7 linked regions of the Homo sapiens genome follow. The protein of the gene in region 3 purifies or fractionates together with the protein of the main gene of each other region. This does not show direct contact. Each region holds a gene or a part of one and is shown on either strand. Other genes may lie near its edges.

Region 1 (4,406 bases), on a different chromosome or scaffold from region 3:
CTGACCCAGGCCTCAGCTGCCCACATGCACCAAAGCCCTGAGCACTGGCCCAGCAAACACCACGTCAGCAGCCTCTCATGGCCGGGGCAGCCCCGTGGCCCCAGAGGCTGGCTCTTTGAGACACGAGAAGGGAGCAGGGTCCCCAGAGGATGCAAAACAGCTGCGCTTGGTAACTCTCGAAAACCACCAACCAAAAGGGCAGAGTCTCCTTCTGGTCATACAGGAAGCAGCCGTACACCCGAGGTCAGAGGGGACAGTGGCCCCCCAAGGACAAGGGCAGTAGGGGGATGGGGGGCCTGGTGGGTCCCAAAGAGGCCCCAGGCCCCTCACCTAATTCCCACCCAACCATCAGCCCAGGGCCCAGCCGGGCCTGGGCATGGGCCAGCGACCCCACAGCTATCCACAAGCAACCGAGCACGGCGGGCTGCCTGAGCCTGTGCAATGTGTGGATGAGAGTCTGTGCAGCACCCACGTCTGTGTCAATATCAGACCTGAGTTCAGGGACCACAGATGCCCAGGTCTGTCTGCCCACCCCCAAGGGCCGTACCCTGCCAGGCACCTTAGCCTTGAGGGGGCATGACCCCAAGGCCCTGGGGTCAGAGAGCAAGCCTCTGGAGAGACGTAGCTCGGGCTGACCACGGGCACTGCCGCTCCTGTCTGGGGGGCAGCCAGTATGTCCTCCCACCACCTGTGAAACCCACAGGAGCAGAAAGGCTGCGGCTCCACATGGCCACCTGCACCATCCCACCCTATGTGGAGAAGCCGAGCCCTCCTTTCCTGGCAGAGGCCTCCTTTCCTGGCAGAAAGGAACCCACCCCATCCCCTGCCTGGGTCCCCGCCCCACCCCATCCCCTGCCTGGGTCCCCATCCCACCCCACCCCCTGTCTGGGTCCCCACCTCACCCCTTCCCCTGCCTGGGTCCCCACCCCATTCCCTGCCTGGGTCCCCACCCCACCCCCATTCCCTGCCTGGGTCCCCACCCCGCCCCATCCCCTGCCTGGGTCCCCACCCCGCCCCTTCCCCTGCCTGGGTCCCCACCCCGCCCCATCCCCTGCCTGGGTCCCCACCCCGCCCCTTCCCCTGCCTGGGTCCCCACCCCGCCCCATCCCCTGCCTGGGTCCCCACCCAGCCCTGCCCCTTCCCCTGCCTGGGTCCCCACCCCACCCCATCCCCTGCCTGGGTCCCCACCCCGCCCCTTCCCCTGCCTGGGTCCCCACCCCGCCCCATCCCCTGCCTGGGTCCCCACCCCAGCCCCACCCCTTCCCCTGCCTGGGTCCCCACCCCACCCCATCCCCTGCCTGGGTCCCCACCCCGCCCCTTCCCCTGCCTGGGTCCCCACCCCGCCCCATCGCCCCATTCCCTGCCTGGGTCCCCACCCCATCCCCTGCCTGGGTCCCCACCCCATCCCCTGCCTCAGTCCCCACCCCACCCCATCCCCTGCCTGGGTGCCTCTGGGCTGGAAGGCAGGGCCAGGGTTCTGTGTGTGTGTGACCAGCCCCAGTGGGCAGTGCCAAGCCGGCCAGGAAGATGAACCTAGAACACACAGACCCTGCAGGCCTCAGAAACTCGGGGCACCGCAGGGCCTGTACCTGGATGGAGCTCCTGGGAAAGGAGGGCCCTGCGTGCCCCACTCCCCACGTGCTGCTCCCAAGTCCTGCAGCGGCGACCACAGCCCACTCACTGCTCTCCATGTCGGAGAGGCGGCCGCAGGCACCCCACAGTTCCCAGGGCATCTCTCGCCAGCCCATGGGTGACAGTGTCCATCCCGCACTGCAGCCACTGCTGTCTGGGAGCGTCCAGGCTGCGTGCAGAACACCAAGAGGTAGCAGCTGCTCCAGGCCATCTCGATGGGGCCTGGGGCCGCGTGTTCCTCCAATACACAGTTAACAGTGGCCCTGTGACGTCTCCCACTGGCGTCTTCAGACACTCAGGGAGCAGCTCCCATTCTGACCCCCAAGTCTGGGGACAGGGACCCTCACAGAGAATCCCTATCACCTCTCTGGAGGCCTCCCAATCAGTGCTGATAGCACAGGGGGCGTTGCCCAGGGCCTCTAGGTTCTGAGCCCACAGGCATCATTGGCCGCTGGGGCTGGGAGTGGAGACACGGCGCCTCCCTGCTGTGCCCAGAAACACAAAGGGTGGGCTGAGGCTCTGGAGGGAGGGATTCTTCTCAGCCCTGGCTCACCCGGCCCATCCCAGTCCTTGGCCTCTCTGAGAAAACATGTGGGGGTCTCTTCTCTGACTCACGTCTCTCCCTCAACTCAGGACCCTCCCACCCAGGCCATGGGCCCCAGCCCTGAAGCCCCTCCTTCCCTACCCTCCCTGCAGCTCCCCGGAGAGGAAATGAGATGGCGGCTGTGGGGGGCTGCCAGCCCACCACCCCCTCAGTGTGGTTCTGTGAGCTGCCCAGGGCTGGGGGCAGCTCTGGCAAATTTGTCCCGGGGAGGAAGCGGCTGCAGGGCCCACAGCACTGGGGCCTCCTGACCCCTTCCCAGCCGGCCCAGGTCCCAGACGCACCCCAGGTTGACCCCACCAGCACCTGTCGCTGCCTGAAATCCCACCACCCACAGGGCCTCCCGGGACCAAGGGGGAGTGGCCAAGGCCCCTGGCCAGCCCAGCCCCTGTGGCCCACAGCCTGCAGGGGTGCCTGGGCCTCCTGGCTGGCTACCTGGGCACAGGCCTCACACGTGCATGTTCATGGGTGCACACAAGTGTTCACCCACACAACTGTCCAGAAGAAGCAAGAGAGCGAGTGCCTGGCCCTGTCCTGGGTGGGAGCACACTGACCCAGCCCCCCACATCTGGGGAGGGAGCCCACCTCAGAGGCTGAAAGCCCCAGCTACACTTCGGGAAGGTTTCCCAGCCCCCACCCTGCCCCAGGCAGATACAAGCAAGGCTTGGTGAGGTAAGGGTCCCCAAAGGCATGCGGGAGGTGCAGGATGACAGGCACAGACAGGGAGGCGGGACCCCCGCCTGTGGTCACCACTGAGAAAGGGGGCAGAGACAAATGACCGCTGGATGGCCGGAAGCGTGGCCCCCAGGGCCGGCCTGCAAGCGCTGTAGGCACGGGCAGAGGCAGCTGGGCCAGAGGAGCCAGGCTTATCCTAAAGCAAACAGCCTCCCTCCCCCTCGCCAGGCCTATCCCACCCCCACCTGGGCTCCCCGGACCCCCTGCTGTTGCCGGCCCAAGACCCCCCGCAGGAGGGCCTGCCCAGGAGGAAGCCCATCCCCCCAGATTCCTGGGGAATGATCACACCAGGACAGCGGCCAGGGCACCACGCCACCTGGACGGGCGTCCAACCCACGCAGCCTATGGGGAAACTGAGTCAGGACCTGAGGGCACAGGCACCTGGTGGGAAGACCGGCTGCCTCGCACTGCAGCCAGGAAGAAACACAGGGAACCCCCGCCGGGGCATGACAGCAGCACTGTGCCACCTCCGGGGCCGTGCACCCTGCCAAGACACCCCCCAGCCTCCTCCTCCAGCACAGCCCCTGCCCTGCACACACACTTAGCCACAGCCGAGAGGCCCCCAGCACAGGCAGGACACCAAGGGCCACATGGGAGCGAGACATGAGAGTAAACTGAGTCTGAGACAGGGCCTCACTGCTGTCAGGTATGGAGGACTAGACTCGGAGGCAGTGCGCCAAGAAGGCGGATGCCTCCAAATCCTCCCGCCGCCCCCCCCACCCCTGCCCAGCTGTAAAAAACACAACTAGGGAAGGAGGAGGAGCAGGGGCTTCCCACAGCAGCAAGGCCCAGAGGCCGCTCTGCCTACACGCTTTGTCACACACACACTGTCCCCAGACAGAGGCTCCTCTTTCCCAGGGCCCAGGGAGGGTGGAGGTGGGCAGGCCCTGGGATGGAGGGGAAGAAGCTGCAGTCTGGAGGGACGGAGGCAGGAACCCCCTGCGGCCTGCCCTTCCCCGTCTTCACAGGCCCTCATATCAGCTCCCCGAACACCTGCCCCATCTGAAGTGCCCTCTCCGACACCCCTCACCCCGTAGCTCCTCGGGGGCTCCAATATCTCTTCTGGAAGGGCCCGTCCTGGCCACGTGGTCCAAACCCACACCCAAGCCCCTCTCCCGTGCTCGTGGTGTCCCGAGGCCTGGCATACAGCAGATACTCAGTGGACATTCGTAGGGAGAACGGTGTGGGTGTGGGGGCCGGCCAGGGCAGGTACAGAGGATGCAGGGCTGGGGCTGCCCGGCTTCCCTCCTGTGGCCAGGTGGCTCCTCCCCATGGGGCCTGGCTCCTACAGGGAGCAAGGAGGGGGTGCTTCCCCAGAACACAGCCCTCAGCACAGGGAGAGACACCCAGGCAGGGACACACGTGCAGCGTCATGACCCCTCTGTTGGGAGAAGACACGAGCTAGGACCAGGACACTGGCTGGAAACGGCCTCCTCCA
Region 2 (3,500 bases), on a different chromosome or scaffold from region 3:
AATAGACAATTATCAAAAGAAGATACACAAATGGCCAACAAACATGAAAAAATGCTCAACATCACTAATGATCAGGGAAATGCAAAGCAAAACCACAATGTGATACCACCTTACTCCTGCAAGAATGGCCATAATCAAAAAATCAAAAAACAGTAGATGTTGGCAGCCAGGCACGGTTGCTCATGCCTGTAATCCCAGCACTTCCGGAGGTTGAGGTGGGCAGATCACCTGAGGTCAGGAGTTCAAGACCAGCCTGGCCAACATGGTGAAACCCCATGTCTACTAAAAATACAAAAATTAGTCGGGCATGGTGGCAGGCACCTGTAATCCCAGCTACTTAAGGAGGCTGAAGCAGGAGAATCACTTGAACCTGGGAAGCGGAGGTTGCAGTGAGCCAAGATTGTGCCACTGCACCCCAGCCTGGGCAACAGAGTGAGCCTTTGACTTAAAAAAAGAAAAAAAGCCGGGCACAGTGGCTCACACCTGTAATCCCAGCACTTTGGGAGGCCGAGATGGGCGGATCACCCGAGGTCGGGAGTTTGAGACCAGCCTGACTAACATGGAGAAACCACGTCTCTACTAAAAATACAAAATTAGCTGGGTATGGTGGCGCATGCCTGTAATCCCAGCTACTCGGGAGGCTGAGGCAGGAGAATCACTTGAACCCGGGAGGCAGAGGTTGCAGTGAGCCGAGATTGCGCCATTGCACTCCAGCCTGGGCAACAAGAGCGAAACTCCATCTCAAAAAAAAAACAATGTTGGCATGGATGTGGTGAACAAGGAACACTTCTATGTCCTGGTGGGAAAGCAAACTAGTATAGCCACTATGGAAAACAGCGTGGAGATTCCTTAAAGAACTAAAAGTAGAACTACCATTTGATCAAGCAATCCCACTACTGGGTATCTACCCAGAGGAAAAGAAGTCATTATACAAAAAAGATACTTTCACACATAATTTTATAGCAGCACAATTCACAACTGCAAAATCATGGAACCAACCCAAATGCCCATCAATCAACGAGTAGATAAAGAAACTGTGGTATATACAGGATGGAATACTATGCAGCCATAAAAAGGAATGGATTAACAGCATTTGCAGTGACCTGGATGAGACTGGAGACTATTATTCTAAGTGAGGTAACTCAGGAATGGAAAACCAAACATCGTATGTTATCACTGATATGCAGGACTAAGTTATGAGGATGCAAAAGCATAAGAATGATACAATGGACTCCGGGTACTTGGGGGGAAGAATGAAAGAGGGGCAAGGGATGAAATACTACAAATATGGTGTAGCGTATATTGCTCGGGTGATAGGTGCACCAAAATCTCACAAATCACCACTAAACTGGCACAGTGGCTCACGCCTGTAATCCCAACACTTTGGGAGGCCGAGGTGGGCAGATTACTTGAGTTCAGGAGTTCAAGACCAACCTGGCCAACGTGGTGAAACCCTGTCTCTACTAAAAATGCAAAAAGTAGCCGGGCATGGTGGCACATGCCTGTAGTTCAGCTACTTGGGAGGCTGAGGAAGGAGGATGGCTTGATCCCAGAAGGTGGAGATTGCAGTGAGCTGAGATAGCACTACTGCACTCCAGCCAGGGTGACAAAGCAAGACTCCGTCTCAAAAAACAAACAAACAAAAAAACTTGCTCATGTAACCAAATACCACTTGTACACCAATAACTTATGGAAAAATTTAAAAAAATTAAAAATAAACATCTAAACATAGAAAAGGAAAAAAAAATTTAAAATAAAAAACAGAAATGTGAAAAAAATAAATAAATCAGGTATGCTATCAGTCAAAAAATAAATAAGTAAACCCACCATTATCAATAATCATTAAACGTAAATAATCTCAGTAACTCAATTAATTTTCTTTTCTTTTTTTTTTTTTTTTTGAGATAGAGTCTCACTCTGTCACCCAGGATGGAGTGCAGTGGCACAATCTCAGCTCACTGCAACCTCCGCCCCCTGGGTTCAAGCAATTCTTGTGGCTCAGCCCCCCAAGCAGCTGGGACTACAGGCACATGCCACCACGCCTGGCTATTTTTTTGTATTTTTAGTAGAGACAGTTTCGCCATGTTGGCCAGGCTGGTTTTGAACTCCTGGCCTCAAGTGATCCACATGCCTTGGCCTCCCAAAGTGCTGGGATTACAGATGTGAGCCACCATGCCTGGCTTCAATAATTCAACTCAAAGACACGAACTGTCTGATTAAACAGCAAGACCCATTTATATGCTGCCTATAAGAAATTCACATTAAATATAAATAAGGGAAAGTAATAGTATTGAAAAACACATACCATGCTAACCCCTTAATCAATAAAGCTGGACTGGCTGCATCAATACCAAAGGACATTTTAGAACAAAAAAAAATTACTAAGGATAAAGGGGGCCATTTCATAACGATAACAAGCCAATTCATTTAGAGGATATAATAATAATCTAATATTTTAATCCATAAAACATGTATTCACATAAACTGATTGTCAGAATACATGAAACAAAAACTAATAGAACTGCAAGTAGAAAACAGTCACTCAAGAAAAAAATAAGTGGCCGGGTGTGGCGGCTCATGCTTGTAATCCCAGAACTTTGGGAGGCCGAGGCGAGCAGATCACGAGGTCAGGAAATTGAGACCATCCTGGTTAACACGGTGAAACCCTGTCTCTACTAAAAATACAAAAAATTAGCCGGGCATGGTGGTGGGCACCTGTAGTCCCAGCTACCTGGGACGCTGGGGCAGGAGAATGGTGTGAACCCAGGAGGCAGAGCTTGCAGTGAGCTGAGATCGCACCACTGCACTCCAGCCTGGGCAACAGACCGAGACTCCATCTCAAAAAAAAAAAAAAAGAAAAAAATAAGTAACACAAATATCTCTAATCTATTAAACAAAGTAAATTTGTAGTCAAAAATCTTCCTACAAAGACAAGTGCAGGCTCAGATGAATTCTACCAAAAATTTAAGTTGGGTATAAAATGTCAATCCTGTATAAATTCTTTCAGAAAACTGAACAGAATACTTCAGAAATCATTCTGAAGCTACATTACTGATTCCAACACCAAAACATTACAAGAAAACTACAACTATCCCATGAACATAAGTTCAAAAATTCTCAACAAAATTTTAGCAAATCAAATCCAACAAAATATAATTAGAATAGTATATTGTGACCAAGTTCAGTTTATCCCAGGAATGTAAGTCTAATTTCATAATTGAAAATCAATGTCATTCACCACATTGGCAGACTAAAAATGAAAAACCACCTATTTCAATATATGCAGTAAAAAAGCATTTGAAAAATATCCAACATCCAACCCTGATAAAACCTCTCAGCAAATGAGAAATCAAAGAGAACTTCCACAACGTGATAAAAAGCACCTACAAAAAACCTACAGCTAAGATCAGACTTAATGGTGAAAGACTAAATGTTTTCCCCAGAAGATCAAACACAAAGCAATAATGCCCACTTTACCACTACAATTCAAAATTCTGCTA
Region 3 (4,406 bases):
CAGTTGTTATAAAATAAAACAATAATATATTTGCACCCATGATAGTAAAAGTTTAAAAGCTTGATATAATCCAGTATTGGCAAGGGTGTAGGAAAATGCTTACTTTCATATGTTGTTGTAGGAATGTAATCAATACATCTTTCTCAGAAGGCACCTTGGCAGTATGAACCAATATTTTTAGAGTATATGCCAATTTACTAAGTGGCTCTAAACATCTTTAAAAAACTCATATGCGTATATTAAGAGATATAGCCAAGGATGTTTATTGCTGTGTTGTTTATAAAAGCAAAAATTTGGAAATATCCTGTACTTCCATTAAGAGAGGAATGGTTAACTAGGAGACATGCACACACTCACACACACACACACACACACACACACACACACACACACCCTCCATCTCCATATCATACAGATAGTAAAAATAGTAGAATGAAGTTGATCTGTATGCACAAATATATCTTAAGTAGAAAAGTAAGACAACCATATTTTCCCTATGATTCATTTATATAAAAACTACTTAATTATCTATATACATATATGTACATAACTATATAGAAAAATGGCTGGGAGGATACATACCAAACTATTAACAGTAATTGGGGCGGAGAGGAAGAATTTCGTTTTTTGTTTTGTTTTGAGATGGAGACTTGCTCTGTTGCCCAGGGTGGAGTGCAGTGGTGCGATCTGGGCTCACTGCAACCTCCACCTTCTTGGTTCAAGCAATTCTCCTGCCTCAGCCTCCCAAGTAGCTGGGATTACAGGCACCCACCACCATGCCCAGCAAGTTTTTTTGTATTTTTAGTAGAGACAGGGTTTCCTCATGTTGGCCAGGCTGGTTTCGAACTCCTGACCTCAAGTGATCCAGCCGCCTTGGCCTCCCAAAGTGCTAGGATTACATTCATGAGCCACCACGCCCGGCCTCATTTTTTACTGTATATATTCATCGTATATATTACTGGTATAAAAATGAACAAAACCGAAAGGAAAAAAGGATAAGAAATTACTCCCTGAAGAATGAAAAAGGCAAAAAGATTAGCAGGAAATTCATCAATGATATTAGGGGAACATTGTTTTTAGGATATTCCCAAAACTTTAGGATTGGATAGGATCCATGGTGTGTATTTTGGCCAGGGCTGTATAGTAATAACTCTGCCCTTTTGTTTCTTTGTATGTTCAACTTATTCTTCTTATTTGTCTCTGTTCTAAAGGTAACTCGGGACCAAATGAAGATGTTTATACAGCAGGAATTTAAGAAAGTTCAGAAAGTGATTGCTGATGAGGAGCAGAAGGCCCTTCATCTAGTGGACATCCAAGAGGCAATGGCCACAGCTCATGTGACTGAGATACTGGCAGACATCCAATCCCACATGGATAGGTTGATGACTCAGATGGCCCAAGCCAAGGAACAACTTGATACCTCTAATGAATCAGCTGAGCCAAAGGCAGAGGTAAAGGAAAAGCCCATAATTATTAGTAGCAAGAGAAATAGGAGGAAACTGATGCCATATTTGTTAGACCCCATGTGGTCCCTGAACGTGAATGAATTGAAGTCTAGGTAGAGTATAAGTGTTTCACATGGTGTATAAACCAGTATGGAAGTATTGGCCACTAGTTTACTCAGTGGCTGGGCCTACCAAATTATTTATCCATCATTACTTTAAGGAGTATAGTCAGTGGGGGCAGATACTAATCACAATTAAGAAAGGAAGCCAAAAATTACAGCCAGAGAAGAGGGCAAGCGACAGACCCCAAGTTGTGAAATGAGCCTTTAAAGTCATCATAGACCTGGGCTGAATGAGAACAAATCATGAAGTAGAGCATAAAGCAGGCCAGAATGAAAGATTTTGGACTTACTTTGTACATAGTGAAAAGGTGTCTCAAGCTGGTTGTTATATGGAGCCAGCTGCATAAATTGGAGGCATAACTGCTGGATTAAGAATGGCATGTGCACTAGGGCATTGTAAGATTAAAAAAAAAAAAAAACTATGAATGAAAGACACAAGGTAAATGTTGAATCACTATACAAATGTTAGTTGTCATATTCATTGTTATTTTTAACGGGAATAAAAGGGTCTTAGGCATTTTACCAAACAACATATTTAGGCATTTTGAATCTACTTTGAAAAAATTATTTAAGGTAGCCATTAAAAAAAAAAAGTACAAGCTGGGCTCAGTGGCTCACGCCTGTAATCCCAGCACTTTGGGAGGCTAGGGTGGAAGGATTGCTTGAGTCCAGGAGTTTGAGACCAGCCTGGGCAACATAGTGAGACCCTGTGTCTACAAAAAAAAAATAAAAAAGTAGCAGACATGGTCTCACCTGCCTGTAGTCCCAGCTATTCAGGAGAGGTAGGAAGATTACTTGAGCCCCGGAGGTTGAGGCTGCAGTGAGCTGTGATTGTGCCATTGCACTCCACCCTGTGTGACAGAGTGAGATCCTGTCTCAAAAAAAAAAAAAAACCAAAAAACTTATATTTCAGCCACTAGAGAGAGGCTACTATTAATCAGATTTCATAATTTGACAATTCTAGTGAAGGTAATGCCAGATAGGTTTAGGGTAGGTCCTTCTAGAAAAAAAACATAGGAGAGTCCTGTGGACTTTCTAGGACTGTTGCTGACTCAGCAAGTCCATCCTTAACTGGACGTCCTGCCTTGGCTTGAGAGAGCCTGGCCACAGAATAAACTGGCCAGTAGAAGAGCCAAAGTAATCCAGGAGGCAGGTATTTCCAAGCTATCCTGACAGGAAATGTAAGAAACCATTGAAAGGTATCTGCTATACCCATCCAGGGCTTTTGATTAATTTTCATCAATGTGTGAAAAGAATAACTCTTCTTCTTTTCATTTTATTCTCCCCATAATTGAGAAATTATGTGCCTACATAAGTTTCTAGATAGGCAAGAGAGCACTTTATATTCATCATTTCATTTAATCCTTACGTCAGCATTAACTCCATTTTACAAATGGGATATTTGAGATACAGAGAACTGCAGAGATACTGACCCAATATCATTTAGTCAGTAGAAAATAGAGCCAGGGTTTAGATTTAAGTCTGTGCTATTTCAGTGCCTGTGCTTTCCCCCTACTATAAGACATATGCTAAGCATCCCATCTGTATCTGTGGGAAAATGAGAAGAATCCATGTTCTAGACAGCTTTGCATACCTTTACAATGTCAAGATGGTCAGTTTGTGTCTTAATAAACAAAAGGTTCAACCAGAGTTAATTCAAGGGATCGACAGCATAATTCTGTCCACAGTTCCTATCAAGTTCGACCCCTTCATTTATTCCCTATGTTGATTAGGTTGTTCTTTGAAAAATAAAAATTTAATTTTGGCTAGGCGTGGTGGCTCACGCCTGTAATCCCAGCACTTTGGCAGGCCGAGGTGGGAGGATCACCTGAGGTCAGGAGTTTAAGCCTGCCCTGGCCAACATGGCAAAACCCTGTCTGTACTAAAAATAGAAAAATTAGCTGGGTATGGTGGCGAGCACCTGCAGTCCCAGCTACTTGGGAGGCTGAGGCAGAAGAATCGCTTGAACCCAGGAGGTGGAGGTTGCAGTGAGCCAAGATTGCAGCCACTGCACCCCAGCCTGGGAGACAGAGTGAAACTCCATCTCAAAAAAAAAAGTTTAATTTTGGGGTTTATTCTTCTCTTTTATTTTAATCTATGAATTTAGTCCTTCTCTGACATTAGCTGTCCTTTAAGCACCTCAGCTGTACTATGCTTGTTAACTCTGATGGAATTACTCTTAAAGGGATGCAAGAGCTGACAAGGCTTAAGGACCAGGCTACAGACAAAATGAGCTATTAAAAACAGAGATAGCGTTCAGCCACTAGAGTGTTTACAAAGAGCTGTTATTATTTAATAGCCTCTTGTTCCAGTTAATCTGGTAACTTATTGGTGAGAGCAAATATCTAGTACCTGTCTTTCAGTCATCAGAGGAATTATGTTCTTTTTGTGGTATAGAATTTATCAAAAATCACCTGCATTTTGAATTCAGCCATAAGACCTTCCCTCCAACATTTTATTATAAAATTTTTTAAACATACACCACAGTTGAAAGGATTTTACAGATTATGCCTATGTACCTACCACCTAGATTCTCCTATTAACATTTTGCCGTACTTGCTTCATTACATATCTAGCCATCTTTTCAACCTTCCACTCACTGATCTATTTTATTTTTGGCATATTTAAAGCAAATTGCAGCTTCTGGTTCTGAGCAAGATGGAGTAAACACATTCTATTTTACTCCTTTCACTTATTACAGTAGAAATCTCTGGGCAAAAATGCTGAAATCATCTACCAAAAGACTCTTGCAGGTGGAAAAAAGATGGCATACTGATCAGGGACCTTGGGATTTGAGAGGATACAAGGCAGTGAATTCCCTGGGGTTTTCTTTACTTCC
Region 4 (4,406 bases), on a different chromosome or scaffold from region 3:
ATGTAATTCTATTTAAATATTCAAGACCTTTGATTACATGGGAGGAATCACCTCTGCCTTTCCATCTATGTGGGTCACAGAAAAAAAAATGCAATTTCATGTGCATCTCTCTTCACTAAGCAGCATCTTTTGGAAAGTTCTGTCACTCTGGCACTTTTCTGTATGTGCAAAATATGTTGAATCATTTGTGCAAAAGAAATCACTTTACCTCTTTTCTTTGCCAACTCATCTGGCTTTATTTCAAGATGAGCTGCAGGGGTATTGGACTTAACAGGAGATGTTTTTGCCTTAGGCTTGCTTGGGTTACAAGGCTGCTCAGCTGACCACTGTAGGCCATCTGACCTCTCTGTTGTTCCATGTATAGGTTTGGGGTTCCCATCTAAGGATAGTTTCTGTTGCAGTAGTCTGTTGCCTTCTGTAAGAAAACACCAAATAATGACTGTGAAGTGATAAACTAAAAACACTGACGATAAAGTGATGGAGGATGCCAAGATTTTTGTTTTTGTTTACATATTGGCAATAATGCCTTTCATTGCAAACAGTCAAGAAACTGTTTTAAAAGAATCCCCAGAAGATTAGAGGGTGTACTAGAAGAGCCTTGTATTTTGAGTAGAAAGACCTGGGCATGTTTTGGCTCTGGTAATTACTTGCAGAGTGACCCTGGGCATCTCTGAGCCCTAGTTTCCTCATCCATAACTATCCAGGAAGGTTATTAAGAGGCTTATAGAAGATGAGCAGTGCCTTTTCCCCCCTGCTATTCCAGTAAAGGCTTATGAGTCTTTTAAGTACAATTTCATATTGAGGCTATAAAAATGTAGCCCTCCTATCTCCAAGTGCTACATTAATGTCTTGTGATATTTCATTCCGAATTAATGAAGGCAGAAGCGTGACTGGAGATAGAGCAAAAATGAAGTGACAACAGATACTATAATCATTGCATCTAATTTATGGAGGGCTTAAATCAGAAAACATCATCATAATATCTCAACTATATTTAAAATCTAGGGAGTCAGATTCTCTCTGGAGATTTAATAGATGTGGCAATCAATTAGCAGGATGTTGCTTTTGGCATCTTTTAAAGGTAGGTTCCCATTTAGTTATTGCTGGAATGAATTAAATAGCATGTTAGTGGCCTGAAACGGAAATGTATCACTCTTAACATCTTACTACCAGAGAAAGTTTTGGGTGTGAGAAAAGGGAAGCCAGTGTGCTCTTGAAGGCCAGGTTCTTGTAGAAAGCTTGATGAGTGCAGTTTTGATCTAGGAGAACCAAGTTCTGGTATTCCTTATGTCCTGGGTGACCTTGTGGGAATGTCTTCACTTGTCTGGCTGACTGGCTTGCACTCAAACAGAACACAGTCATCTTTGTAAAACCCAGCCTTTTCAGATAGTCACCCTTGCCCTGCTTCTCTCTACTCCCATGGTACCTTGCTTTACTTAAAACCATGGTACCACGGTTTTATATTTTAACACAAGGCTTCCATATCTGCCCCTCACCCCTGCCTTGCAGAGGCTGCAATCTTCCCAAGGGCAAACACTGAGTTCAATTCTGTTTTGAAGCCCTAGTACTTGTGTCTGGCTCGATGGCTTTCTGTAGAATTATGATCTAATTAAAGTACATTTGAAACAATTTCATAGAAAAAAATAAAAAACAATGAATATCTTACCTGACACAGTCAGAGACTACACTTGAAAAAATACAAAGGAATATGATCTAGGTCCTAGTCAATTTGATTTTAGACATTAGTCCATTCATGATCAATATAATTAGACTTCAGTTGAATCCATCATTCATAACTTACATATCAAGAAAGCACAACATACTTTCTATGAGCTGAATGAATACCCTTAAAAATTTACTCACAGTACACAAAATGTTCAGCAAAGGTAGTAAACAAAGTACATAAGTACTGAAAACAGCATTTCCTCCAGTAATAAAACAGATTCAAATGGTAGTATGCAATTTTATCCTTAGTGATATTAAGGTAGAACTTCACTATAAGGCACTGGCTGTCAAACTTCAGTGTGAAATGAGTTTCCCTTGGTACTTATTACACATGCAACTTCCCGAACACCATTTCTAGAGATTCCAGTTCAGCTGTGGGCCCAGGCTTCTCCTCCCCAGGTGATTCTGTTGGAGTGGAGATGGGTGGTACCAGCCACCCAGAGAAACCCTACTGTAAAAGATTAAAAAACTAATTTTATGTTGAGTCTATAAACATTTGTGTTAAAACAATGACACGTCCAAACTGGTTCCAAGTCACTACCTCTCTAAATTCCAGTTGAGAGGCAGTCTGGATGAGATACTATAAATTGAGAATTCTGGGTTAGGCTGTTTTTGCATTGCTGTAAGGGAATACTTGAGCCTGGGTAATTTTTAAAGAAAAGAAGTTTATTTGGTTCATGGTTCTGTACGCTGTACAAGAAGCATGATGCCAACATCTGCTCAGCTTCTGGTGAGGGCCTCAGGAAGCTTACAATCATGGCAGAAGATGACTGGGAGCCAGCATACCACATGGTGAGAATGGGAGCAAGAGAGTGAGGGGAGAGGTGCCACATACTTTTAAACAAGCAGATCTCACATGAAGTAACTGAGCAAGAACTCGCTTATCACCAAGGGGATGGTGTTAAACCATTCATGAGGGATCTGCCCCCATGATCCAATCACCTCCCACTGGGCCTTACCTTTGACATTGGGAATCACATTTCAACATGAGATCTGGAGGGGACAAACATTCAAACCATATCAAATTTAAAACACAGATCTTCGTGTATAGTGTCGTAAAGAGATCATATTCTTGAAAATAAGGGGATTTATACTATAACTTAATGGAAACAATGACCTTAGAGCAGAGGGAAAAAATTATTGTAATGAAATGCAAAAGAATTTTAAATGGAAGCCAAGCATGCAAATGAGCATAGGCTCATTAACCTAGAGCTGAAAACATTTTATTTGTGTATCAGAGAACTGATATATGGTCTACTGGTTCGTTTCAACATTCCCCATCAGATATCAATTGAGAAATGTGAGTAGAGATTTTTTTTAGGTCCTCAAAAGCTGTCTCATTACTAGTGAAATCACTGAACATTAAAATCTTCAAGACCACTTGTACATATTTGCATATATGCATGTATGTCTGACATGCATGTATGTCTTGTTCATCATTACTGCATGTGTTTGATATCTTGCAGATACATAATAAATAATGAATGTATCAGTGTTACTTTAGTATAGATCTGTCTTCAAATATAGTAAAACTCTGGGACTCTTGCAGATGAAAACTGGTGGAGCGTTATAGAGCTATAACAGAAAGTCACTGTATCCAGTGACTTTCCTCTAACATTATAGTCCAGAAATACCATCAGCTCTCCATTTATCGGGAGTCCACTTGTAAACTTCAACAGGTTGTAGCTCAATGGGGGCTGATTCACACATAAGCCTCCAGTGTCCAGTAAGGTAGCCACTGGCCACATGTGGCTGTTGAACACTGGAAATGTGGCTTGTCCAAATTGAGATGTGCTATAAGTGTAATGTATATGCTGAAATGTGAAGGTTTAGTACAAAATAAAAAATTTAAAATATTACTTTAATAATTTAAAAAAGATTGACTACATGTTGAAATGATATTTTTGATACATTAAGTTAAATAAAATATATTACCCAATTTAATTCACCTGTTTACACTTTTTAAATGTGGCTACCAGAAAATATAAAATTATATACATACTATGTGTTAAATTTCTGTTGGATAACACTAATAGGATACACAAGGAGTGTGAGAGTTTTGATCTTCAGTGTGTAATCACTACTAATTTATATTCTAGAAAAGGGTATTTGTTTTAGTGAAGCCTTAAAATATCCTCTGCAATTTCTACATGAGAAAAGTGGTGACAGGGTGATGTATGTCTTGTTCATCATTACTGTATGTGCTTGGTATCTCGTAGATACATAATAAATACTGAATGAATGAATCAGTGTTACTTCAGTGCTATGCATGCCTACGGCCCTTCCAGTTGTAGGGAGCCTCGTTTGATATGAGTCTCTGGCTGTGTCTTTATCTAATATTCATCAAATATTAGATTCCACAGTAGCCGTATCTTGGAAAGAAAAGTTATCTCTGGAAACACACCATCTGCCTAGATTTCAATAAAAATTGTATACATTTTAATTTAATCCTTGTCCATGTATCTAAAAATGGCTCCTAGAAGTTTGTGTCTTTGAATTTAACTATTACGTGAGCATTCCTTTTATTGAAAACACTTACCAAATCCCAATTTTGTATATACACACAAATGGTATATAATGTCCTGAGTATCACGTTGGTTTCTGATTCAAGGATTCAACAGACACATATGGAGAGTGCACAGTGTATCAGCTCTGGTTTATTAATAGGCAATAAATGAGAA
Region 5 (4,276 bases), on a different chromosome or scaffold from region 3:
TTTATATACAAGTCATATAGTAAAGATAAATGTTACCATCAAGCCTGCACATAAGGAAAAGATATTTTTGTAAGGCAATTTACAACAGCTTTTTGATTCTATTAACATCTCTATTTCCCATATTTTAAAAATGCAATCCATATAACATATTTATAAGATACTCTCCTCTAGTAATAAATAGCTTTTGTGAACATTATAAATTTGCTAGTCTCAATGAAAACACATGGGGGCAAACCTAAATTATCACTGAGTTTCACTAACATCCAGAGACTGCATGATGTTCTAGTGCTAGTCTTACTGACATAAACATATGATGACAGAAGACAAAAATGTGCTTGTAATGGTCACATCATAAACGTTTTAGGTTTTATTAAGGAAAAAAATCATAATTTAATATACTGTTTCAAGAATTCATTAAAATCATACCTTTAGACAGAAAAATTCATTTTCCTTTCTCTTGGGAATGTTTAGAATATTCACAGAGATAGCAACCCGATAGTTCTTCAAATGCTGCACTTTTGATTGATTAAAGTGTTTATGTATTATTAAAGGATATTGTAATTTCAAAGTTTCTAAAGGCATTTTTTTTCCAAAGATAGAGATCAAAAGCAAAACACTGAGTTAGAGTTACAAATCTCCACTCATAGATATGGGAATAATATATTTTGTTCCATCAACATGTCTACTTTGCATTATTCAGCACAAAGCTTTGTGAAATAAGAATCATGGGAATATAAGAATATAAAGAAAAAAGGTACAAATAACAGCTTCATAAACTGAGAAATGTACATAAATAAATCATGTATATGTGGGCAGTTTGCTTAGCTGGCAAGAAACAAAATATGGAAAATCTGCTTGTTAAACAATAACTACAGAGTGTGCTTTTATGATGTTTTTCACCACAGTAATTCATATTAGAGATAGAAGCAGTTGCATGTTAAATAAAATCATTGAGCATTGTTCCCCTTGCATTGCAAAGAGCTGACTTGTGTTGTTTTTAGATGCCTCCCATTAGAAAGTAAATATTCCTTCAATGCTATGCATTTCACAAAATTTAATAAAGATGAACTGTAAATAAAGTCACAGGGAGATTTCAGACAGTTTTATTAGGAGATTGTTGAAAAGGAAAAGAAAATTAAATACAATAACAGTAAACGTGGTTCTCACATTGAAACCAGGCTCAAATAACTAGGCTACCATAGAAAAATTTCCAATTCTTGCATTATGATGTAAAAACAGATTTTTGTACAGATTTTGTACAACAAAATTCGTAATAACCTTTTATCATTTTTAGAAAACTTTAAATATATAGATAAAAATAGACAATTTTCATAGGTCCTACATGAAGATGAGTATGTTCTGTTCCAAGGGCTTGCATAGAGCGCAAATGTGGTTATAATATAGAACAACTAGACATTAATATTTTTAGGATTACAAAAGCATGGAAACCATAAAATGGGCACATTTTACTTGTTTATGCCAAAACACAAATTTCCAAACCAACCTGTATAACTAAAACAGGGAAAAAATTAAGTTACAGACTTACAATAACATTTCATGAATTGTAATATTTACAACATGTTAGTAAGAGTCTCTCTTAACATACAGCTGATAGCTTTTTTCTTTAATCCTTGCTAAAATTTCCTTTTATTTCAAATCAAACACTAAAGCATTCTCAAAGGTCTTCAAATATGTATTTTAAAACTATTTAATCCACATAACAAACAGGTGACTCTATGCCAGGAGCAGAGCAATGGCTGATTCTACTACATATGTAAGTTGTAGGCTTTTTTAAAAATCTTTCAAAAAATGTATGATGCAAAAAGCTTGACACAAGTCCATTCAATTTTAAGTGTTGTAATCCTTTAAAGACTGCATATAGGGAAACAAACACATAGAACTAGGAAAAGAATCCCTTGTGCTCAAACAACAAAAGGTGGTTATGGAAGAACTATGCTTAGAAAACCAAGTTTCTACAAATCATTTACTAGCAATACTTTAAATAAAAATAATGCTCCCTTTGTAAGCAAGCTAAAATAGGAACTGTACATATAACCTTTTTATGGTATTAAAAAGATGAACTTAGCTGGCTAATAGTGAGCTACACAAAAGAATTATGTTCCAGTATTGCAAGGAAGACCTAAAAGGTATAGAAGCGTAATGCCAGAGTATCTATAATGTTAATTTTTTCTTAATCAAGTAATTAATACCCAATCAGAACTATATTTAAACATTTTAAGCTAGTTTTCTTAGACATTGAAGATTTTGCTGTTTTGTGGTAATAAATAATGTTACGATCATACAATTTTAAGATGACAGAAAAATCATAAAATGTATAGTGACCGTACTGATTCATATCAGTCTTTAAAGGTGTAATTCCAGATATGCAAAAAACAAAGAGAAGGTAACTTTAGCATGTAATAAGCACTGTTTGCCGCTTTACTTCCAGTTATCTGCACGAAAGTGAAAACACATACTGTAACTTTCAAAAAGACAGTGAAAATAACACATAGCCACCCTTCCCTCTGACAAGGGTGGGAAGCACAGCACATTTTAACTTTATCACTCAGCGCTACATGGTATTGGACTGGTACATCAAGGTTTGTTAGGTTTTGTTTTCAGCAACATTAACATAATATGACGTTAACATATAAAAATATTTCTGGTGTTTTGATTTGCTGTTCAGCCACAATCCATTCCCAATAGTGCAGCTTGGGGCACTAGCTAGGGTTCAATATACAAATAAAAGTGGCTGACACAGAGTTCTGATGTCACCAGATGCTTAAGATCTCATTCATTAATACTGTGACTCCAGACAAATATTTACATGCCTGCATGCGTTAAAACCAGAAAGACATCTTTCTGACCAACAGGGTGACAAAACATATTTTCTAAAATTTTCATTTTCCTAAACTCTAGTATACTACTGCATACATAATACCTTCCTTGTGTGTTTTATGTTTATATACTGTACATATGACCAACAGTTTGAATAAGAAGCAACATTATTATCTTTAATTCTACATACCACTACCAGTTTGGAATGAAAACATGTTACACTTATATATTTTTTTTTATTTTTAAGAAAAAAAAACCTTCAGTGAAAGCTTTTGGCTTATATTCAATGCTTCTTTTCAGATATGCAAAATGTTATTTCATTGGGTTGTTGTCAACATCCATTTGTTGGTCTTTTGGAAAGTATGTGAAAAAAAATTCTTCAGGAGAAAACCCACAATTAGAGAGTTTGAAATTGAATGTAACAGAAAATCACTCTTGCATTTTTTTTTTTCAAGAATCCTCTATGCCCCCTACAAGTTCATTCGTTCATTCCAAGTGTTCTTGCTGGTTTCTGGAGGACATAATTCTGTAAGTCTGGGTAACCACTGCTACAAGAGTCTCTTGATGTGCTCAGATACAGAATTTTCAGAAGAGGAAAATGGTTCATTCCATTAGAAAAAAACAAAGCTAGGTCTTATTCAGACCTGCCTTTAACTCTGTATACAATTGTCCAGCAGCAAGTTGCAGTAATTAACTGTAAGAACTTTGATACTTGTACATTTACAAACATTCTCAGGTCTCTGGTATGAACCACAGGTGAAAATCAATGGAGAAAACTTTTTTTTTTTTTGTAGAATACTTAAACTTTTAAAGAACATTAATACACAAAATTCAGGAAGTTCCCTTAAAAGGACTTTATTTTTTTCTGAACTTTCCCATGACGAATGTCTGACTGCAAAGTTCTTTTCTATAACATGGATTTCTTCAACAGGAAAGATTCAGTACATGACAGTAGTTTTCAAATACAGTCTTCCATCTAGAAATGAACAGTGAAAAATTAATTAATGGCATGGTATTTGGGGTACAAATGTGCATGTAAAAATGATGTAACTTGATATAAAATTTGTAGTTTTTATTAGATCTTTACTTGGTTAAGAAGTAACATTTTTCATATCTTCTCAAAGTTAAGTTAATTTCATAATTACACTGAGTTTATGTGACTGAAAAGAATACAGCATTTCTACTTCTCATAAATATATATTTGCTATTTTGATATCAGTTCCAGAGCACTCAGAAAATAGCTAAGAGTATGTGTGTGTATTTTACTGATATGCAAAGTTAGTTGATTTCTGTTGAATAACAATTACTTCCTTCAAGCTTGCAGAACCAAATTTTCTCTGAATGCACTCAGGTGTATCTCCATCAGGAAAGACTGAACTCCCATCTTACTCTTTAGCAGTGTTGTTAAATATACCATGTAATGTAACTATTGTGCACA
Region 6 (5,057 bases), about 89 Mb from region 3:
ACATTACTGGGAGAACTTGACTATTGTCTAGCTCCAGCCAATAGCCGGAAAATAGTCAAGGTGTCTCAGACATGTCCAGTTATTTGAGCCCCAGCTGAGGTCCCAGACACTATGGGGCAGAAACAAGCCATTACCACTGTACCCTGCTCAAATTCCTGTTACATAGTATTATTTGCTTTATACCACTAAGTTCTGGGGTGGTTGGTTACACAGCAAAAGGTAACCAGAACAAATTATAAAATAATGCAATCCCATATATGATGATAGAACAGCAGTGTCTTTTGATGCTAATTTATTAATAATTATTGGGGGGAGGTAGTCTAAAGCTATGACATTTTTAGGAATCCTGATGGCCCCCTGAAATTTTGGGGAGAAAAATGAGTAGAAGTTCCCCTTTAGAACAGACATGATCTAAGGGCCAAGCTTTAGAAGTAACTATTCAGCATTTATTTTGAGCTGACAGAGCTATATCCGTTAATAAGGGTGGATACCCAGACTAGATATGCTAAAGCTATAAGGAGTTCTATTAGATGCTTGATCAAACTCCCTTTGGCTGGAACTGATCAGAAATTTTTAAATCAGGAAAAGGAGATATGTTTATCCATGTTCCAAGACTTTAATATTTTGAGTTAATGTGTGTGAATACGATAGTCAATACTTCTTAACATAGAAAAAGTTTGATGGTGTCAAATTTTAGGCATGTTGACACTACTGATATTATACAGATGTAATTTGAGCAATTACAAAGAGGTGTCAACAACTTAAATACCAAAATATCTTTATACCAAATCTTACCAAGTCTTGTGGGGTGTTTCCTGCATTCATCCCTTCTCATTCCACTCCTTTTTTTTTTCCAGAGATGGGGTCTCACTCTATTGCCCAGGCTAGAGTGCAGTAGTATGATCATAGTTCACTGCAGCCTACAATTCGTGGGCTCAAGCACTTCAATCATCCTTTTTCAAGGCTGTTCTTCTCTATTTCTTACCACTAACAAAGTTTCGATGCTATACTCCATGCTTAAATTATTATAATTATATTCTAATTTATCCCCAGGATCCAATCACTCCCTATCCTTCAAAACCTTTGAAGCAATTCATCTAAAGAAAACACTGGTTGATCATGACATTCACCTGTAAATATTAAACAAAGTCAATCCCTTCTCCAAAATTTCCTAAGGTACTCTACCATCCCTATTTTCCATAATCCTGTCAGCAACCATTCTCCTACTAAGCTTTCCACTCCAATCGATCTAATCTACCCTTAGAATCCTGAACCTTGCTTACTTCTTACTCTCCTCATTCTCCTTAATAGGAGAATCATTCCCTTCCCTTCTCCGATCAAATTCTTCATTACACTTTCCTGGGTCACATCAACCCAACGTCATAGCTTCTTGATTGAGCATTATATTCTTAGAACTTAGATAGAGATACCACCTAGACTCTTAAAATCCTTTTTGGAAATAGGCAGGGTAGGAATAAATCAATGAATATACATACATATGTGCAAACATAAATAAAATGAATATAGTATATTGCATTACTTTAACATTTAAACACATCTCATTTCTCTTCTGAGATCAAGTACACTGAGGGAACATATCTCATCCTTTTTTCATCCATGTTCAGCACCTTGTCTACACATACAGAAGACATTTTGTGCCTTTCATAAATACTTCATGAGTGTCTATATTGATTAGGCAGTATTTAAGATAAAAGTGGGAATGTGATGATAAATGACATTTGTTCTCTACGCTCAAGGAGCTCACACTGCATCAGGAAAAGATATATAAACAATCTACTATAACACAATGTGGTAAGTGCCAAGTTAAATTTGAACAAATAGCTAAGGGGCACAGTTTGGTGAAAGACTATCAGAAACCATGGAATTTCTAGTTAGACTTTCTCAGATTATCAGAGTTCATCTCTTTCTCCTTTATTCTATTACTCCATTTTGCCTGAATCCTCATTACAAAATTTATCATAAACCTTAAGCAACCAATTAATGTTACTTGAAGTATGCCAACTATCATCCATACTAAGTTGCAGTGTCTGGAAGATGTAGATAGTGCTTATGTCTTGGGCATAACAAGCAATCAAGAGTCTGAAGTAAACTGATATACAGATATATATCTATATAACCTGTTCCATGTAGATTATGCTCTATATATTATAGTAGGTGAGTAATAAATATTTGATTATGCCAACTAAAGCTGCAGTCAAGTTTTGGCAAATACTTGTTCTATAATCCTAATGCAAGAGCATAAACTATTTATGGCAGAATAGAAACAGCATCCTCGGACTGTTCATCTTTAAGCACCCAGGATTAGAGAAGGCTAATAAAAAGGGTGGTGGGGAACCCCACCATATTTGGATCAAACTGACACTCACATATGCTGGGATTTCCGAACTACCTGGTGAGGCAGGTTCCACCCATGCCCCAACTGGTACTATAGCCTCGTTCCTCTCAGCCAGCACTGCCAACACGTCCTTGCTCTTCAGGGGGTTTAAAGCCAGGGGCAACCTTGAGGTATTTCGAGGTTTCTTTCGGGCCATACTTCCCAGCATCTGTGACTCCTGATTAGGAGAAAGAAAAAGCTTAAAATCTTCAAATGACTGCATTAAAAGTTCAACCTCCTAACACATGAGCCACAGGCCCGTGAAAAGGAGAGAAGCCCTGGAGGCAGAAGCCTGGCATGAAGTGGAAACACACGGATTCTAGAGAAAAAGGAAGAAAAGAAGGGAAGAGAAATGGGAAGAAATAAAGAGGCAAAGAAAGGTTTTTAAGTTGCCTTCTAGAAGAAATGGCGATGAGAGGGAAGAGAAAGGATGGGAATGAGAGAACGAAGACTGTCCTCAGCTGTGGGCGCAGCGAGGCGGGAAGGGAGGAATGACAGCTGCAACCCGGAGAAAGAGGGAGGGGCGGGGACCTGTGTCTGCAGCCGAGAGTCCCAATAATCGGTATAGGTTATGGGAAGACGCGCTGAACGGCTGGGAGCCTCGGGCCAGATAAAAGCCTGCTTCTGAGGCCCCGAGGCCTGCTCCGGCTGAGATGGCACTGGCCAGGAATCGGCCCGCAGCTCGCCACAGACTCAGTCTACTCGGAGTACTAAGGTAACCGCCTCAAGTAGACCGCCACTTTGCGGTGGGCTGCTCCGTCCCGCCCATCCGTAGCCTTATGCCCGCCCTTTCCGGAGCCCGCGTCCCCTCCCGGAGCTGGGAAGGCGTGAGAGGTGGAGTTTCGAGCGCCCGAGGTATCGTCATTTCCTCTTCCTGTCCGGCTGAGGGGGCGGGGACGTGTGGGTAAGCGGAGTCGCTGGGTAATGCGCCATGTGAGGCGCGGTGGGACTGTCGTTCCTGGACCAACGCCGAGACTTCCTAAATCCCTCCGGAAAGGGATGCGTTGGGCCTGTGATCTGGCGACTAGGAGGGTCAGGAGTCCCAGTAGAGGGAATCACGGGAAAAGAATGAAAGAGGGAGGCGAGCCTGGCACGGCTTCCTGGAGAAACAAACTAAGCTAACAAATTTTTCGGATCCTTTGTGCAGCTAATTTTACAGTACTGTTTCATACATCTTATTATATTTGGACATCACGGCCTGTTGAGTGGTCTCCCTCTCTGCTGCAAGCTCTGCTGTAATCCAGAGACACTCAATTATCTCTGTAGGATAATTTATTCATTCGATTAACATACATTACTACTAACTTTTTATAAACCAGTACTGTTCCAAGCACCGGAGATACATAGCTATGAACGAAACAAATATCCCTGCTCAGGGAATTCACAATAGAGTGAGGGGAAATAAGCGAATAAACAATGAGTAAGTAAATGTGTGTGATGTGGAGTAAAAGCAAAGAAAGCGGATAGGGAGTGTGGTGGGCAGGGTGGGGATTGGAGGGATGAAATATTAGAACGTCCAGAGAAGCTGCACTGAGATACTTTTCAGCAAAGACTTAAATGAGTTAATGGAAGAAGCCACTGTGCTCTTCAACGGAGGCTTTATAAACATGTTCCAGATATAACAGCAAGTATAAACGCCCCAAGGTGGAAGCATTGCCTGGTTGAGAAAAAGTCAGGAGGATAGTGTGACTGGAGCAGAGGGAGAGTGGAAGAATGCTGAGACAGTAGGTCAAGCAGGCAATCCGATCAAACATCGTAAGCCACCATAGGTGTTGAGATGGGGAGCCACTGGAGCAAGGTTTGGAGCAAAGGAACACCATAATGTGACAAAATTAAAAAAATAATAATTCCGAATGCTGTAGTGAGAATAGACTGTAAAGAAGACCAATTAGGTGGCTATTGCAATAATTCAGTTAAGGGATTGTGATGTCTTGGATCAAGGAGGTAGTGGTGGAGATGATGATAAGTGGTTGGATTCTGTATCTATTTGGGAGGCAAAACTTTCAGGATCTGTTGAAGGTTTGGATATGGATTGTGTGAGGGAGAGATGTCAAGGAAAACTAGGGGTTTCATCCTGAGCAGCTGTCAGGATGAAATTACTATTTACTGAGATAGTGAAGATGGTGGAAGGAGTAGATTTGGAAAGGGGAAGATCAGGAGTTCAGTTTGGGGCAGATAAAGTTTTATCTAATCAACATCCGAGAAGATAGTATGAGAAAAAGTGTCTGGAGCTCAGAGAAGGGTTCTGGGCTACAAATATAAATCTAAGAGTCGTTAGCCTGTAGATTTAAAGCCATGAGACTGGATGGAGTCATCAAGGGGTTGAATATAGACAGATAAAAGAATAAATCCTAAAACAGCCCCAGGGTATGTCAGTATTACAGAGGCTGAGAAAAAGAGGAGGAGAATGCTAAGAGATTGAGAAGGATTAATCAGTAAACCAAGGAAGAAAACTATGAGGGTGTGATACCTTGAAAGCCAGGTGAAAAAGAAATGTTCCATTGAGGGCAGACAATCTGTGTTAAATCCTACTGACAGATCAAATAAGGTAAGGACTGAAAATTGACTATTGGATTTGACCATGTGGAAGTGATTGATAACTTTTAAAAGAGCAGTGTCTTTAGAGTAGTTGGAGAGCAAAAGCCTGATGGGCTAGGCAAGA
Region 7 (3,670 bases), on a different chromosome or scaffold from region 3:
ATATCCACTGGGTCTTCAGCAATTTCTTTGACTAAATGATCTTCAAGGGTTAGTGAAGGATCAAAAAGCAAAGGTGAAGGAGGACACTGCATACCATCACCCACAACATCCAAGTCCTAGAAAAAAGAGAAAAGCCCATCAGCAATACCAAGGGAAACAGTAATAAAGTTGGCATGTTTTTCAGCAAACTTTAAAGCAATACTCTGCTGTCTCCCTCAACCCTAGCCTACCTTTAATAAAAAAAAAATTTTACAAGAGCGTCCAACAAATGAAACAAGATCCAAAAGCACTGAGAGCTTTTGCTGCCAAGTGTAAAACATAGACCAATACAGTAGATTAAAAAACAAAATTCTGGCCACCACACCTCTAATCCCAGCACTTTGGGAGGCCAAGGTAGGCATATCACTTGAGCCCAGGAGTTCAAGACCAGCCTGGGCAACATGGTGAAACCCCGTCTCTACAAAAACTGCAAAAATAAGCCAGGCGCGGTGGCACACACCTGTAGTCCCAGCTACTCTGGAGGTTGAGGTGGGAGGATCCCTCAAGCTTGGGACGCAGAGGCTGCAGTGAGCCGAGACTGCACCTCTGCACTCTAACCTGGGTGGCAGAGCCAGACCCTGTCTCAAAAAAAAAAAAAATTCTAGGAAAATTCACAGAAACACAAAGTAGAAACGGAGAATAGTAGGGAACAGGGGAAAGGGAAAGGAGAGAGTTACTGTTTAAAAAGTACAAAGTTTCTGTTTGGGTTGATGAAAAAGTTCTGGAACAGAAAATGGTGATAGCTGTACAACATGGTAAATGTTCATAACACCACTGACTTGTACACTTAAAAACGGCCAGGTGCAGTGGCTCATGCCTATGATAACAACACCTTGGGAAGCCGAAGTGGGAGGATCACTTGAGGCCAGGAATTCAAGACCAGCCTGGGTGACACAGCAAGACTCCATCTCTACCTACCCACCTACTTACACACATACATACATAGGTTAAAAGAGTAAAATTTTGTTATGTATGTTTTACTACAATTAAAAAAATATTTTTTAAAAAAGCATATTCTCTGAGGCTACCTGTAATGAACATGTAAGTTCACCAGTGATTAATTTAAATATGAACAATGCTACGTTAAAATTAAATATTGCTGGGTAATACAAGATTGCCTGATTAATATCCTAACAGCCACAAAGCAAGCAAACAAGCTCCAACAAGGGAAAGGGAGAAGGTAGGAAGAAAGGAAGGACAACAGAAAACTCACAGTTCCTCTGAATGGCTAGGAAATATTATTTTGGTTAAGTCCCTATCCCGACAGAGCAACAACCTGGTTTTTTTTGTTTTGTTTTTTTTTTTTTTGAGACAGAGTCTCGCTCTGTCGCCCAGGCTGGAGTGCAGTGACGTGATCTCGGCTCACTGCAACCTCCGCCTCCTGGGTTCAAGTGATTCTCCTGCCTCAGCCTCCCCAGTAGCTGGGACTATGGGCGTGTGCCACCACGCCCAGCTAATTTTTTGTATTTTTAGTAGAGACAGGGTTTCACCATGTTAGCCAGGATGGCCTTGATCTCCCGACCAGTGATTGGCCCACCTCAGCCTCCCAAAGTGCTGGGATTACAGGCATGAGCCACCACGCCCGGCCAACTCCCTGGTTCTTAAGCCTAACATAGTTTTGCTCTGTAAAAAAAAAAAAAAAAAAAATGACATTACATTCTAGACTATGTTTCTTCCAACTGAATTGGCAATTCGCACTGGAATACTGAATAGCCAACAGACCACAAGGAAGACATCACTCTTAGCTCCTGTTTGAAACCAACAGCTACAGCAAACCATTGGTCTTGATTCAGGGCCTAAGGCAATACAAACTCAAACAATATATCAAACTAACTTTCATGCCACTGCTTTTCAAGAGTCTGGTGCTAAATTCTCCTTCTTCCTAAGAATTAAAAATATCCAGGAGGTTTGTACCCCCCTATGTTTAATCCAGTTTATAGATGCTCCGTGTTTCTATTCATCTAGCTTCACGAGAAGCTTAGTTCTACGCTTTTAAATAAATCTAAGAATTTGCAATCCTTTCCCATTTGTTGGTGTGCTAATCACCAAAAATGAGAATCACAACATCTTCACATTAAAGAATATATATAATTTTAAAATCTACTTAAAGCTGCTCAGGCCGGGTGCAGTGGCTCACGCCTGCAATCCTAACACTTTGGGAGGCCAAGGTGGGCGGATCATGAGGTCAAGAGATTGAGACCATCCTGGCTAACATGGTGAAACCCAGTCTCCACAAAAAATTACCAGCCTGGCCAACATGGTGAAACCCCATCTCTACTAAAAATACAAAAATTAGCCAGGCGTCTTGGCACATACCTGTAGTCCCAGCTACTCAGGACACTGAGGCAGGAGAATTGCTTGAACCCAGGAGGCAGAGGTTGCAGTGAGCCGAGACTGCACCACTGCACTCCAGTCTGGGCAACAGAGCAAGACTCTGTCTCAAAAAAAAATAATAAAATAAAGCTGCTCAATTTAAGCAGAAACATAGGGCACAGGATACACTCAACCTACCATTCATTTTCAGGTGAGTTGGAAACTTCTGTACTACCCACAGAAACCAGTGTTCTCACACCATTAAGACTATAAATCTGTTTTCTCCCATTCTTTTACTATGTGCAATTTGTGTGTGTGTGTGTGCGTGCGTGTGTGTGAGACAGAGTTTCACTCTTGTTACCCAGGCTGGAGTGCAATGGCAAGATCTTGGCTCACTGCAACCTCCACCTCCTGGGTTCAAGCGATTCTCCTGCCTCAGCCTCCCCAGTAGCTGGGATTACAGGCGCGTGCCACCACATCCAGCTAATTGTTGTATTTTTGGTAGAGACGGAGTTTCACCATGTTGGCCAGGCTAGTCTAGAACTCCTGACCTCAGGTGATCTACCCGTCTCGGACTCCCAAAGTGCTGGGATTACAAGCGTCAGCCACCGCACCCGGCCCATGTGCAATTCTTACATAAACAATTAGCTTGGAATGGGCACGGTGGCTCACGCCTGTAATCCTAGCACTTTGGGAGGCCAAGGTGGGCGAAACACTTGAGGCCAGGAGCTTGAGACCAGCCTGGCCAACATGGTGAAACCCTGTCTCTACTAAAAATACAAAAATTAGCCAAGCACAGTGGGGCGCACCTGTAATCCCAACTACTCGGAAGGCTTAGACCGGAGAATCGCTTGAACCCAGGAGGCAGACAGTGCAGTGAGCCGAGATCACGCCAATGCACTCCAGCCTAGGTGACAGAGCGAGACTCTGTCAAAAATAATAATGACTAGCTTGGAATTATTTAAACACTGAATCAAAAGGCATCTAAATCTCAAGATAATAATGGAATGTGTATGTTTTCAGAAAAGGCTTTTCTCATATATACAAAGGGTTGTCTTTTATAAGATTTTAAACTGGGAAAAGGATCCTAAAATAAGAAAATCAGCAAAAATGCCTATTAAAACAGGAGTGTTTTAAAAATTGAAGTATCAGGATATAAAGAGAATCCATGTTTTCAGCTGGGCGCGATGTCTCATGTCTATAATCTCAGCACTTTGGGGAAGCTGAGGGGAGTGGATCACCTGAGGTTAGGAGATCGAGACCAGCCTGGCCAACATGGCGAAACCCCATCTCTACTAAAAAATACAAAAATTAGCCA

Evidence for each region.
Region 1: the proteins of TRIM44 (region 3) and FGFRL1 purify together in Homo sapiens (affinity purification with mass spectrometry; 2 studies listed by BioGRID and IntAct, with this or other methods). This does not show direct contact.
Region 2: the proteins of TRIM44 (region 3) and DDX24 purify together in Homo sapiens (affinity purification with mass spectrometry; 2 studies listed by BioGRID and IntAct, with this or other methods). This does not show direct contact.
Region 4: the proteins of TRIM44 (region 3) and SPATS2L purify together in Homo sapiens (affinity purification with mass spectrometry; 2 studies listed by BioGRID and IntAct, with this or other methods). This does not show direct contact.
Region 5: the proteins of TRIM44 (region 3) and DACH1 purify together in Homo sapiens (affinity purification with mass spectrometry; 2 studies listed by BioGRID and IntAct, with this or other methods). This does not show direct contact.
Region 6: the proteins of TRIM44 (region 3) and CCDC15 purify together in Homo sapiens (affinity purification with mass spectrometry; 2 studies listed by BioGRID and IntAct, with this or other methods). This does not show direct contact.
Region 7: the proteins of TRIM44 (region 3) and KANSL2 purify together in Homo sapiens (affinity purification with mass spectrometry; 2 studies listed by BioGRID and IntAct, with this or other methods). This does not show direct contact.

The regions. Positions count from the first base shown.
Region 1 is NC_000004.12:1,017,639-1,022,044, reverse strand, and holds part of FGFRL1 (fibroblast growth factor receptor-like 1 precursor), read right to left. Parts: intron 1-4,406. UniProt on the Homo sapiens protein: Has a negative effect on cell proliferation.
Region 2 is NC_000014.9:94,071,203-94,074,702, forward strand, and holds part of DDX24 (ATP-dependent RNA helicase DDX24), read right to left. Parts: intron 1-3,500. UniProt on the Homo sapiens protein: ATP-dependent RNA helicase that plays a role in various aspects of RNA metabolism including pre-mRNA splicing and is thereby involved in different biological processes such as cell cycle regulation or innate immunity.
Region 3 is NC_000011.10:35,724,713-35,729,118, forward strand, and holds part of TRIM44 (tripartite motif-containing protein 44), read left to right. Parts: intron 1-1,211; coding exon 1,212-1,451; intron 1,452-4,406. UniProt on the Homo sapiens protein: May play a role in the process of differentiation and maturation of neuronal cells. May regulate the activity of TRIM17. Is a negative regulator of PAX6 expression.
Region 4 is NC_000002.12:200,435,131-200,439,536, reverse strand, and holds part of SPATS2L (SPATS2-like protein), read right to left. Parts: intron 416-4,406; coding exon 209-415; intron 1-208.
Region 5 is NC_000013.11:71,436,879-71,441,154, forward strand, and holds the end of DACH1 (dachshund homolog 1), read right to left. Parts: intron 3,815-4,276; coding exon 3,777-3,814; 3' UTR 1,088-3,776; downstream 1-1,087. UniProt on the Homo sapiens protein: Transcription factor that is involved in regulation of organogenesis. Seems to be a regulator of SIX1, SIX6 and probably SIX5.
Region 6 is NC_000011.10:124,952,240-124,957,296, reverse strand, and holds the start of CCDC15 (coiled-coil domain-containing protein 15), read right to left. Parts: upstream 3,096-5,057; 5' UTR 2,927-3,095; intron 2,574-2,926; 5' UTR 2,565-2,573; coding exon 2,388-2,564; exon of another isoform or gene 826-2,387; coding exon of another isoform or gene 796-825; intron 1-795. UniProt on the Homo sapiens protein: Plays an important role in primary cilium assembly, maintenance, and length regulation. Interacts with centriole inner scaffold proteins to promote proper centriole size and integrity and assembly of functional cilia.
Region 7 is NC_000012.12:48,654,945-48,658,614, forward strand, and holds part of KANSL2 (KAT8 regulatory NSL complex subunit 2), read right to left. Parts: intron 1,839-3,670; exon of another isoform or gene 1,704-1,838; intron 117-1,703; coding exon 1-116. UniProt on the Homo sapiens protein: Non-catalytic component of the NSL histone acetyltransferase complex, a multiprotein complex that mediates histone H4 acetylation at 'Lys-5'- and 'Lys-8' (H4K5ac and H4K8ac) at transcription start sites and promotes transcription initiation.